2 separate regions of the Homo sapiens genome follow, and region 1 is linked to region 2. Evidence: fine-mapped expression QTL. A gene starts in region 2. The other region holds a variant in brackets. All regions are shown on one strand. Distances are from middle to middle. Region 1 overlaps STAT4 (signal transducer and activator of transcription 4). Region 2 holds the start of STAT4 (signal transducer and activator of transcription 4).

Region 1 (2,806 bases), 71 kb before region 2:
TCTTATGGAAAATTGATCATTATAGATTCAGTAACAAATGAGCACTTCTATTTTCCTAAGTATCAAAGACATACTCATATTTACCTTTCAGCAGTTACTAAGTACGTGAACCTCAAAATAACAATAAAACAAACCCTTAAGTGTGTGTTAGTGGGAGGAAGGAAGCAGCATGCCAGAAAAAGAGAAACTGCTCATTTTCTGTAGTGTATCAGTTTCTCATGCAAATTTATTGCAAATACCTTCTACTCTATGGCTTATCTTTTTCCTATCTTCTAGTGTCAATGAAGAGGTTTTAAATTTTAATAAATCATTTATTAAACTTTATGCTTCTTATGATTTAAGAAATCTTTCTGTAAGCTGCAGGCATGGAGATTTTTCTTTGTGGTTTTGCACCATTGATTGTAATTAACTTGGAGCTTGTTAATAATGAGAGTTTTCTTTCATTTTTTTCCACATGTCTACCAAATTCCAATAACATTTACTGAACATCTTATTCTTTTACCACTGCTCTGCTGGGCCAGCTCTGTCATAAATCAAGTGTTCCTTTGTGGGTGGGCTTGTTTCTGGACTCCATTCCATCTTATGGTTCTCTCTCTGCTTCATCAATAGATAATCTTTTTGTGTTTTTTACTACAGCTTTATAGTAAGTCTTGATGTCAAGTAGAATAGGTCTTCTTTATATTTCTATATACATTTTAGAATCAACTTGTCAAGTCACGCACACACACATATGCACACCCTGGTTGAGAATTTGAATGACACTAAATCTTTAGGTAAAATTTAGGGAGACTTGGCATCTTTATACTTGTGTTCTAATCTATTTATTTATGTCTTCTTTAATGTTTCTCTATTAAACATTATAATCTTATATGTGTTTCACTGGGTTTATTTCTGTAGATGGTATTTTTTGATACTAGAATAAATATCTTTTTCCTCATTGTTTTTGCTGTTATATAGAAATATAATTAATTTTTGTATATTGATTTTGAATCCAGCAACCTTGCTAAACTCTGATTCTAATGCTTTTGTAATATCTCTTATTAATTCTAAAATTATATCTGTATATTCTTTGGAATTTTCTGCATATACAAATCATATATCATGTGGATATTGATAGAATTTTCCTCCTTTTTAATCATCTAACTTCCATCAGGATTTCATCTTTGTCCTAAGGTGACTTATTTAAAAATGTATTTGTTAATTTCTATACATAGGGATTTTCTATTTATCTTTTTTTTACAGATTTTTAGAATAATTTAATTTTAATCAGAATACATTCTCTGAATGACTTCAATCATTTTAAATTTGTTGAGACTTGTTTTATGACCCAGCATATTAATATCTTGTAAATGTTTCATGTGAGCTTGCAACAAATATGTATTTTGCAGTTGATGGGTACAAATGTTTCATACAGGTTTATTAAACCATGTTT[G/A]TTAATTGTTTTGTTCAAATTTCTGCATCCTTGCTGATTTTTCTTTGCCTGATAGATTTTTGCAGTCATTGAAAAAGGTAAGTTAAAATCTACTCTGTGAATTTTTCTTCTTGTGCTACTGTCATACACATTTAGACTTTTATATATTAGTGGTCAATGAAATCTTTTATTACCATGCACTGACCTTTATCTCTAGTAATGCTTTTTGCCTTGAAACAAAAATACAAAGTATACCACAATGCTTTTTATCACTTAGAATTTTTATTTTTTCTTTATTGGTAAAACTCTTGATTTATTTCAACATAGATATATATATTTACTAATATATCAGTATTGTGTACATATATTAAAAGGGAAGTATATGTGTAATAAATTGGCTAATGTCTTCCTAAAACTACTTCACTTTAGAGTTCAATTTTTCTGAATCTCCTTTAAACTTAGATTTATTGGCACTCATATTTTTCCATAAAATAATGTCTTCTGGGCCATCAAGCATGACAGCAATGCATATTTCTGTAGAGTGTGCACAATTATTGTCTTCATTTTGTAAGTTTTGATGCTGGCACTTTCTTGATCTCTCCAAAATTTCTCAGTAGAAGGTTTCAGACAAGAACCAGGACTCATATTTTTTCTACATATGGTTAAATGGTTTGTTGACTGAAACATTAAAGAGTTGTAATAGTCTAGTCATACCATCATGATAAACAACCACATCACTAATAGATGAGATTCGTATTTAACTTTTCAGGCAGATGTCCATGGAATCATTGAGAACCAGAATATATGGTAGATTCTCAGATGTCTATTCCAGAAGACTTCTAATCAGTCGTCTGTCACCACAGTCATTATCCATCCACTATCGTGTTTCACTCTTAATAATACCTTTGAAAAAGTTCTTTAAAATTTTTTTTTGTTATACTTTAAGTTCTGGGATACATGTGCAGGTTTGTTACATAGGTATACATGTGCCATGATGGTTTGCTGCACTCATCAACCTGTCATCAAATTAGGTATTTCTCCTAATGCTATCCCTTCCCTAGCCCCCCATCCCCTGACAGGCCCTGGTGTGTGATGTTCCCCTACCTGTGTCCATATATTCTCATTGTTCAACTCCCACTTATGAGTGAGAACATGCTGTGTTTGGTTTTCTGTTCTTGTGTTAGTTTGCTGAGAACGATGGCTTCCAGCTTCATCCATGTCCCTGCAAAGGACATGAACTCATCCTTTTTTATGGCTGCATAGTATTCCATGGTGTATATGTGCCAAATTTTCTTTATCGAGTCTATCATTGATGAGCATCTGGGTTGGTTCCAAGTCTTTGCTATTGTGAACAGTGCCAAAATAAACATATGTGTGCATGTGTCTTTATAGTAG
Region 2 (2,806 bases):
ATATATTCCATCGGATGTGTATATATTCCACACAAAATTGGAACATTTGTTCTCATGCTACTATCAACATTGTCCTATCTATCAATTTATTTTAGTTAATGACAACAGAGAACATGAGTTGAAAATAGCATTACAGTTTTTCATCATACTATTGTTAAACCCCCGCTATGATTTGGATGAAAAATCTATTTTCTAACTAAAACTTACAGGTAGATGGGAGGAATAAGTTCTAGTGCTGTAACACTAGGATGAATATGGTTAACAATAACTTAGTGTATATTTTCAAAAAGCTAAGAGGATTTTGAATGTTCACAACACAAAGTAATGATAAATGTTTGAGGTGATGGATATGCTGAATATCCTTTGATCATAACACATTGTTCATATTTATTGAAATATCACTGTATATTCCATAAATATTTACAATTGTGTGTCAAATGAAAATAAAAGGAAAATTAAAAAAAATAAAAATAAACACCGAAAAAAATCACTACTAAGATCTGAGTCTTTCGGAGAGCTGAATTCAAAGCTGAAAAAAGGAAGAAGAAGGAATACATAGTCCTAGGACATTTTCTATTGCAGCCTCTGGGAACGCCTTTAGACATCCTTCAGCAGGTTTCTTTGCTTTCACTCTCTAGGGGCTACTTCTTTCTCATGAAAACTGTGACGTTGCTTCTGAAAACTCAGTGCCTGTCTGTCCTTTTTGCGTGCATTTCCTAGAAGATCCCACTAAAGGGGCATTTTGTCCCACCGTCTGTGAGCTGGTGGTGCCGCTTTGGCTCTGTGGCCTGTAGCTTGCAAAAGGAGATGACCTGCCCTAAAATGTCACTCGCGCCCATCAAAGCCACAGTCACCGGCTGCCGTAGCTGCAAGCTTTTTTCTGAAATCCAGGTACGCTAATCTAAAGTCAGACATCACAGCTCTAGAGAAGCTGGCTAAGAAAGTGAAGAGGGGCTCACTTTCAGCCTCCGCGAGGACACACCTCCGCAGCCGCCGCAGCTCCCCTGGCCCCCGCAGGGAGATTCGCCCGGGCACCGTGGCGCGGGCCTGCGGAGCGGTTTCCGCGGAGAACCCGTGCCAGGGCGCATCTGTGGGTCGTGGAGTCGGGCGCTTCCTTCTATAATAAGCCTCCTCAGGAAGGTTAAAATGAAGCAATTGTCAAAACGCCAAGGGAAAGCAAAGCTTCAGAGTATCCTGCATAATAAGCATGTCCTCCTTACAAGAGGCAGCCAGAAGGTGTGGTCTGGCCACTTACCTAGCGCTCTCTCAGCACAGGTCCCAGGCAGTGCTCAAGTCCAAAGTCAGAAGCGCCCCTCACAGTCCCTAGGAGAAAGCCGCTGACGCCATCATCAGTAGGGGATTTGCATTTCTCCTCCCACTTGAGGCTTTCCTGTGCGTCAGTGTTCGAGTCTCTGGGACTTTACTTGGGTCAGTTCCCACCCACTCTATTCTAGAAATGCTAACACGCAGAAACTGCCAGGCTGGAGCCCCTTCACCGGGCGTCCTCTTCCCTCTTATCCCTCCCAGCGGCTCTCGCAACTGCAGGTGGCTCAGCAGTGCCAGGAAAAAGGGGAGGGGCGGGGCATACATTTTCTTCAGTGGTTTCCTTAGACAATCTGAGATCCTCTGCAGAGTTACTTACCTGGAGCCCAGTTCTTCAGCTTCCTCTCTCCCTAGTATAAGGCTCCACTCAGCCTGGTGAACCACCCCTGGGATGGAAGGGATGGGTAGCCAGGATCAAAACACCAAACTCATAGACCTTACTGGGCTCCAATTCCAGCGGGGTCCGCTCACTCCGACGAGGGTGACCTGACCCAGAGGGTTGGGCCAAGTCCTGGGTAGGCCACCAGTGCTTGCCCTTCCTGACCTAGCCTCCTCCTACTCTCCTTGAGTAGCCTTGCCCCTGGTTGCTACGGTGCGTTCTTCTCCCTTTGTGACATCAGCCTGTTCTAGAATCACAGAGTTGGAGGAAGTCTTGGTCCCATCTAATGCTAAATCCTCTTTCATATCTGAAGAGACCCAGTGAGGTGACCAAGAGGACTCAATAAGTTAGCCACGGAGCCCGATAATAGCCCAGGTGTTTCCCTTCCCACTTCAGTGGTCTTTTCATTTCATCTCCTTGTAGTTAGCTCTTAACCCCTTGATTCACAGTAGGGGTTCAATAAAATAAAGAGAAGTCCAGGCGTGTGGCTCACACCTGTAATCCTAGCACTTTGGGAGGCTGAAGTGGAAGGACTCCTTGAGCCCAGGAGTTTGAGACCAGCCCAGGCAACACAGTAAAATCCCACCGTATATTAAAAAATCAATAAAAATGTTTAAGAAAGTAAAAATAGTAAAACAAAGACAAAAATAAAGACAGACAGACAGACTGAAAGAAAGGTAGAAAGTGTCACTCAATTTGGTTATACACATGCTTAGAGCAATATACCAAGGTGAAAGGCCTGCCTCCCTCTTCCCTGACGGGTTTCACACAGGTACACCCTCTGGATTCTTCTCTCCCAGGTGACATTATCATGTGCTTAAACTTACCACCCACCCCCAAATAGGTCAATCAATCCAAAGTCACACTTTCCATATCACTGTAAATTTCCTGGTTAGGTAGGCCTGGTCCCCACTGCTTGTTGAGCAGGCAGTTTCCAGGAGCTTATGCTGCTCTGACCCTACATAAGAAAGTGCCAATTTCAGGCTATTCCATAAGCTACTAAGCAAAGTCTGATTTTCTTCTGGAGAAGCTGTCACTGCCTATAGGAAAAAAATCCAAATTCTTGGCAGTTTAAGTTCTGTACAGTTTGGTCCCAACCTATCC

What was found. PIP is the estimated chance that this variant, and not a neighbour inherited with it, causes the effect. A credible set is the group of variants that fine-mapping cannot tell apart.
Region 1: its variant is the best candidate, but not a certain one, in a credible set for the expression of STAT4 in whole blood (TOPMed, PIP 0.68).

The regions. Positions count from the first base shown.
Region 1 is chr2:191,078,521-191,081,326 of GRCh38, forward strand. The region is part of intron 3 of STAT4 (signal transducer and activator of transcription 4); the gene reads right to left. Among named protein-coding and RNA genes, the nearest start is that of STAT4-AS1, 58 kb to the left of the region's middle. The variant G/A (reference allele first, on the strand shown) is at 1,433.
Region 2 is chr2:191,149,692-191,152,497 of GRCh38, forward strand. STAT4 (signal transducer and activator of transcription 4) reads right to left here and starts at 1,303. Exons shown (of 24, transcript NM_003151.4): 1 at 1,256-1,303. RefSeq lists a silencer at 943-992 and enhancers at 1,463-1,512, 1,643-1,722.